Homo sapiens: one gene and its partner. The protein of the gene in region 2 purifies or fractionates together with the protein of the main gene of each other region. This does not show direct contact. Each region holds a gene or a part of one and is shown on either strand. Other genes may lie near its edges. The genes, in order: MPPED1 and TAF5L.

Evidence for each region.
Region 1: the proteins of TAF5L (region 2) and MPPED1 purify together in Homo sapiens (co-immunoprecipitation; one large-scale study listed by IntAct). This does not show direct contact.

What each region holds. Positions count from the first base shown.
Region 1 is NC_000022.11:43,470,843-43,474,657, reverse strand, and holds part of MPPED1 (metallophosphoesterase domain-containing protein 1 precursor), read right to left. Parts: intron 1-3,815. UniProt on the Homo sapiens protein: May have metallophosphoesterase activity (in vitro).
Region 2 is NC_000001.11:229,605,493-229,609,307, forward strand, and holds part of TAF5L (TAF5-like RNA polymerase II p300/CBP-associated factor-associated factor 65 kDa subunit 5L), read right to left. Parts: intron 2,344-3,815; exon of another isoform or gene 2,316-2,343; coding exon of another isoform or gene 2,282-2,315; intron 1,385-2,281; exon of another isoform or gene 926-1,384; intron 702-925; exon of another isoform or gene 627-701; intron 1-626. UniProt on the Homo sapiens protein: Functions as a component of the PCAF complex. The PCAF complex is capable of efficiently acetylating histones in a nucleosomal context. The PCAF complex could be considered as the human version of the yeast SAGA complex.

The DNA of each region.
Region 1 (3,815 bases), on a different chromosome or scaffold from region 2:
GCGGGCAGGAGGAAGCTGCATGAACTCCTGGTCAAAGGTCAGCTCGTGGTTGCCCGCGATCACGATCTTGTACTCATAGGGCAGGCTGCCTGCAGGGGTGGACACAGACAGACACACAGCACACAGCTGTCAGCTTGTCCAGAAGCCACAGCATGGCTGAGAGAGGGGCGGGCAGGAGGAAGCTGCTGGAATCGCTGACAGGGGTACCTGCTGCCAGGCCCCCAACAGGTGTCTTCATCAGATCAAAGGAGGCAGCAGCCTGATCACTGTCCCCACAGTCCTGCCTGTCCAGGCCTCCACTGGCCATCGGCCCCCTGAGATCATCGGGAAGAGGCTGGACAGGTTCCTCCCAGGCTGCTGAGCTGCAGAGTGCCTGGCCTCATCCTGGGACTTCTCTGCCTCAGTTTCTTCTGTCTGGACTAGTTTTCTACTGGAAGAAGACCCCCACGCTGCATCCCCAGCCCTAGCTGTCACTGGCCTCACGGTCCCAGGCCCCCACCCCCTGGGTATCTTGGACTCTTTATCCTCCACTTTCCAAAAGGAATTGCAAGGTCTTTGCAGAGCCCAGTTCAAATGTTTGGAGACCCCACACTCAGGAAACATTATAGTACCCACCCCTACTGCCATGGAAATTCAAAGCCAAAACAAAATCTAGATGGAATCAAAACAAAAATGTCTATGTATACAGCCACTGAATTACAATAGTGTCATTCCAGCTTTGCTGTGTGCGAACTTTTGGGTAGTTCTTCCAAGGTACACATCTTTCTCTCTCTGGGGTCCAGTTTTCTGGATGCCCTAGGCAGGAGTGTGCACTGTCACCCAAGAGAGACTGGCTGGGGGCTGGTTTCTCGGCAGCTGCCCGGCAGGCCTCACCCACCAGGCTGGCTCTATGCAGGCGCAAGACCACCACAGCTGTTCGGTCTCAGTAAACGCCACTCGCCCCTGCCCCCTACTCCATCTGAGAGCCAGCCTGACCCCAGGCTTGGGCCCCTGACTCCCCACTCCCCACCAGCCTCAGCTGCTGGGCACTCATGGGCCTGGAGAGTCAAGATGGTACCTGTAAGCCCTGATTTGGATAAAAAATGAAATGTTGAAAGTGCACTTGGAGACCCAAGCCTTTCTCCTGGCCCCTCCTGGGCCGAGAGTGACCTGGAGGGTCAGGCAAGTAGCAAAGACGCCAGCACAGCACAGGGGCCTCGGGGTGGATGGGGACCCAGACAGGAAAATGGTGACATTCCATAACCAGTTCACAAAGCAGTAACTGTGGCTAACAAAGACCGACACCTCGCGAGGCATCCCCTCTATCCCTGGAAGACCATGACCTTCATCTGCTAAAGCACACACAGGGCAAGGTGCCAGAACACTTGTCTGGCCATCAGGCTCCAATGAGCCCCTGACACCCCCTTCACTCCTCACCCTCCCGGGGCAATGCCCAGCAGCACGGGCACCGTGGTCTGTCCCCTGGGACAACACAGCAGCCCAGGAACAGCAGAGCCTTTTCCACCATGACCAAAAACTCTACCTCTTCCGCTGTGTGAGCATTCCATGGGGAACCAAATTCCAGAAATGCCTCTGCTCCAAATACTAAGGATTGTTTTTCTTATTGGAAACGGATGCTTGCAATATGGGCTGAGACTCGGAAGATGTGCCATCACACTCAGCTCTCAGGAAGCACTCTAGGAAGAGCTCGCCTCCCCAGCCCTTACGTGAGCTCCAGGGAAGGGTAGAGTGAGGTTTACAGCAGTACATGTCCTATAACTACAGCCATTATTATATCCTAATAGCAAGGAAATAGAAGGGTCCAGTGCCCCGTTATAAGCTTCTTCTCTACCCCCAGCTAGATGAGACCTGTGCCGTCTGTCTAACCACGTGCCCTATGGCCACGGCAAATGGCCAGGTCCCAGCCTGGCCAGGGAGGGTGGGCCAGGGCGGTAAGAAAGGGAACCCCAAGGCGAGACAGAAGTTTTCTTCAGAACAGGCAGAAAATCCCAATCTACTCATAGCTGACTCACCAACCACCTCAGACTGCTTCACAGGTTTGAGAAAGAAAGCACTGCTCTTTCTTCTTCGGGATTTATCAACTCTGGGGCGGGGGACCACTGGTACATGGGGGCCACTGGTACTTAGCAGGCCACAGAATCTCAGCTCCAGCAGCCTGGATCCCAGACCCACTCTGCCACCAACCCGCTGTACGACTTAGCTTCCCTGTGCCTCAGTTTCCTTACCTGTAAAATGAGAAAAGTAACAGCGACCTTGCAGGACTGTTCTGATATTATAGAAGATAATCAATGGAAATGTACAAAATTTTGATGTTCAAAAAAACCAAAGAGCTTCCCTGGGCCAGAGTTTGCAAACTAGAAGCAGGCAGGCCAGACCCATCCACAGACATATTTTGTTTGGCACAACTTTTTTTTAAAACTTGAATTTGTTGCCAACATCAAAAATTTGAGAGATTCCTAATAACATTTCATTACTTCTGTTTTCTAAAAATAAAGAAATAAATACAATTTAACTGGTCCAGTCAGGAAGTGCTGAGTGTCTGTGTCCCCTTGGACAGGATGAATGCGTCCAGCTGGCCCCAATCCCCACCTGTCCCTACCGTCTCACACCCAGTCCACTTCATTCATTTGAAGGTACCGCCCACTCTTAACAGGCATTTGGGTTTCTGTCCCTGGGGACATGAAGGGAACAGCCTGGCCCTGGCCCGAGGTTCTTCCAGTCAGGCTGCTGGGATGAGATTCTACAAGCCCCTTCCACCTCCCTGACCCTCCTCTTGTACATCAGAGCCCACCCTGATGGACGCTGGGAACTCTGCTTGCTGTGCTCATGGGAGAGCTCCAAGAACATGGATGCAGGCGTGTTTGCTTCCCCCAGCTCTGTCCCTAGCAGGCCCCAGCAGGAGTCTGGCGAATGAAGCCTCCCACAGCCCCACAGTGCGACCAGGCATGGTACAGAGAAGCCCTCTCCAGTGAGGCTCAGGCTGCGGAGAGGAGGGAAGAGGGCTGCGTGGGCCTGAGCAGCTGGTAGTGGGTCCGGGAGGACACAGCAGGAAAGATGGCCACTTCTGGACCGCTGGTGGAGAGCTGAGATCTCATTTCCCTAGAGCACCCCCAAGGTACTTGGTTTTATTATCTCCTCTTTGCAGCTGAGCAGAATGAGGCTCAAAGGCTGGGAAACCCACCCAGGCCCCACGGCTGTGGAGGGGGACGCTGGTCCAGCTGACCCCACCCCTCTAGACGGGCACCTCAGACTCCTCCAAGGCCAGCAGACCCCTCATCGAGCCCCTCCCCAAACACACTGCAGCAGGGAGGCAGCCAGAGCCCCCAGCTCGGGTTGGGGGTGGCCACCATCGCTGCCTTCGGGCTCTGATTCACCACATTTCCACTTCACATCACCCATCCATCCTGCAGCCCAAGCTGGGGGTGCAGAGCCAGTGCTCATGTATTTATGTCATGTCTTTGACTGGGGGTGTTACTGAAGCAAATTAGCAAATTACTCCAACTGTACAGTTTCATTTATTTCTGCAGCTCCCGACTACTGGGGATTGGGCGGAGCGCAGAAGCTGTCAGCTCTCCCCTCTTCTTCTCACCTCAGCAGCTGATGACTGAGGCTTTTTCCCTCCCAGAAAAGGGTGGATGGGGCACAAGGCCCAGCTCCCATACATAATGCAAGGGAGCAGGGCAGGAGCCACCACCTGCTGGGGTGACACCCTCAAACACTGTCTGCTCCATGGCTTGGAGGCAAAGGGACATCCACTTATGAACACAGAAACTGTCCAGCACCACATCCCTCTGAGTCCAAAGTCACAAGAATGC
Region 2 (3,815 bases):
ACAGGTGCCAAGTTAATAAGGAGTGGACTTGTGAGGTTACTTTTACATGTCAAACTGTGGGGGGGCCCACGGCACACAGATATTCAGTCAAACATTATTTTAAATGTTTCTGTGAAGGTATTTTTTTTTTTAGATGAGATTAACACATTTAAGTCAGTAGACTTTGAGTAAAGCAGATTACCTTCCATAAAGTGTGGGCCTCATCCAATCAATCAATCAATCAGTTTAGGCTTTAATAGAAAAAGACTTATCTTCCCCTAGTAGAAGGAATTCTGCCAGCAGAGAGCCTTTGGATTTGAACTGCAACACTAACTCTTTCCTGGGTCTCCAGCCTGCTGGCCCGCCCTGATTTTGAATGTGCCAAGCCTCCACAATTGCATGGAACAATTCCTTAAAGTAAACCTCTACATATCCATCCTGTTGGCTCTTGGCTGTTTCTTTCGAGAACTGTGACTAGATTTTGGTTTTTCTTTTCCCTTTGTTTTTTATTGGGATGAAGGATTGTTTTCAATTCCTTAGAAACAAAATTTCAGGCTCCTTTTCTAAAATGAGAGGCATTTCAATTGAGTAAGTTTAGAAAAAAACCTAGCTATCAAGAAATAGTGATGTACTACTTTAAAACTTACTGAAATTCACTGTTGCTTCAGCTCATAGGTTCAAAATTGCTTAATTGCTCTCTCTTGTCTGAAGAGAACAGTATGCTGGGTATAAAACAAAAAAACTGATCAATTTGGAAGAAGGTGAGATTCAGAATTCTAACTCCCATTTTAAATTATTCCCTTGCAATCTAACATACTCTGTATTTTACTGAAAGTGTACTCACTTAAAATATATTTTTTTCTAACTGCAAAAGTAACAAACATATCCTCTGAAAGTACACTTTTTCTTCCTTCTATCTACCCACTGAAATGTAATGAATGCCTACCTGGTGCCCAACTCTACTGGCGGTAAATGAGAGAACAATGGAGTTTTTCATGAGTTCATGGAAATTAGTAGTAAAAAGGATACTAAATTAAACAAAACTAATCCTGTCGGTCCTCATTCTCCTCTACCTTTCTTCAAGGTTTGGCTCTATTGACTAGCACTCCTCTGTCCTTTATTCTGAAAGCCCACACTACTTGGTCCTGTCGTCACTCCCTTTTTGGTTCCTCTTCCTCCTGTCAATCCTCAAATGCTCATTTCACTTTAAAGAATTAACACTGGGTGTGTGCCTCTTAGGAGCCAGGTACTTTGCATCCATGATCATGTTTAAGAGTCACAGCTGGCCCTGGTTCAAATCCAGAGGTTGCTTGACTCCAAAGGCTGTGTTCTTCCCACTACACCTCCTGAAGAATAGGACCTACGGCAATAGGTGAGCTCACAGAATCTCTCATCTACAGACAACCTGTGGAGGAAAAATACATTCAGGTGGATATAGACATAGATACTCTTATATCTTTCCCTAGTATCTTCCTTTGAGATTTTATCACTTCTTAAGACTTTAATTTGCATCTCCATGTAGCTGATGCTACATGTTCTTTATTACAAGTCTTTATCTTTCTCCTAAATCCTAGCCTCAAATTTCCCACTGCAAGCTATGCAGTAGGATGCCACTGTCATGACAATTTAACAAACATAAACCCTTCTGACTTATTTATTTTCAATAAATCTTCATCTCCACTCCAGTCTTAAAGCCTGAGCCATCGTCACCTCTTCTTCCTCCTTTACTCCTGAGCCTTGGAGATTCCACCTTGGTAATTTAACTATGAAATAAAGCTCCTGCCTTCCAGTTCCACAATGCTGTCAAATTCTGGTCCTTTCTCACCTCATTTCTCAAGATTGCCAAGCACTTTAATTCACAGTCAGTCTCCCTGCCATTCCTCTTACAAATAATTTTACAAACTGCTTTCAGACTAATATTCATTGATCTCCAGCCTGAAACCCCCATTCACAACAAAGCCTTAGTTGTTCCTGTACAGTCGTCAAGCCTGCCTTTTTGCTCATGTTATTTCTTACCCAAATTACTCCTCTTCCTCCTCCTCTTCCAGTCTACTGAAACTCAATCCATCCTTCAAGTGCTGACTTAAAGCCTACCTCCTGCTCAGTAAAGCCTTCTCTGACTACCGCCAACCAAATCACTTTCTCCTTTCATTCTGAATGCAATTCCTATATGATTCAGCAATTGATCTCATGCTGGTCTGTGAAAGTGCTTCTGTGATATTCAAATTTTATGTAAAAACTTTTACCTATAGTGTTTTTATGCTAGGACTGCTTCTAAAATAGATTAATGAGTATATCTTACACTTTATCTTGGTGATCAGGAAATAACTATTCATTTGATTTGGTTAACTGCTCTTCAGAGACCTGAGGGTAGAGAAAAATATTCCAGGAGCAGCAGTCCAAAGTGATCAATATATATTAACCCCTTTAAAATAATGATCCTTTAAACCAAAGGATTAAAGAATCAAATTACAGACAAAATAACAGACAACTTTCTCAGTTCAGAAATAAAGTAAGAACTTAAAGGAAATGGTTGATAGACTATAATCTTTTGAAATGTAAAGTTCTGGCCAAACAATCCTTGTGGTAATAATTTTTAATGGTAAACGACGAGTATACAGTAATCAATATATAAACCAAAATAATACACCTGGCCTTACACACGCATAGAATTATCCTAGTTTTACCTGGCCCCCATAATGGTATTTTAAAGCAAAGAATCTATATTTACTATAGTCTACAGTTGGAGAAAATGGTCAAAATATTACAGGAAATAAGGGTTACAAAATAAAACCCTCTAGTGGGGTTATCTTATCAGTTTCATGGTTGTTGGGTGACAGAATTCATAAGTAGAGAATAGTCTGTTTAATAGTTACAAAAACGAAAAATCATGAAAATTAAGGCTTTAGTAAAATGACTCTATTATGTTTGAAAAAAAGGAAGTTCCATTAATTCTGCATATCATATAAATCTTAAATATTTCAGTGCAGTGATCAATTTCCACTAAGGATAAAAAAAGAAAAACCGAATTTATAATAAGGGTTTCTTTCATTGAGAGGTAAGAACTTAGAGATATTTTTTATCATTGGCATTGGTTTCTGAGGCTTTAAGCAACTTGCAGAAAAATTTAACTCAGTTTTTAGAAAGTTATTTTACTCAGTTAAAAAAATATGATATTAATCTCTCCATGACAGATTTATTTTCACCATACTAGTGGTGGGGAAGCTGGTTTAGAAACAAATGTCTTGGCTGGGTGTGGTGGCTTGTGCCTACAATCTCAGCACTTTGGGAGGCCAAGATGGGAGGACTGCTTGAGGCCTGGAGTTTGAAACCAGCCTGGGCAACACAGTGAGACCCTGTCTCTACAAAAAAATTTAAAAAAATTAGCCAGGTGTTGTGGCACATGCTTGTGGTCCCAGCTACTCAGGAGGCCGAGATGGGAGGATCACTTGATCTCAGAAGGTCAAGGCTGCAGTGAGCCGTGATCATGCCACTGCACTCCTGCCTGGGCAACAGAACAATACCGTCTCAAAAAAAAGAAAAAGAAGCAAATTATCTGGCTTCTTTGAGCCTGTCTCCTTCATTCGTTCAGCCTGTATTTATGTTAAGTGCTGACTACATGCCAGGATAGATATTGTCCTAAGATATATTGATATGGTCCCCGCCCTCATGGAGCATATAGTCTAATGAGGAAAACAGACACAAAAGTAAATCACCAAATGTATAATTTTAATAGTGGTATATTCTGACTCATGACAGTGAGATGGCTCTTGTCATGGTCATGACTTATTTCTATTATGAGTGACACTCAGATGACCCTAATGACATTACATACA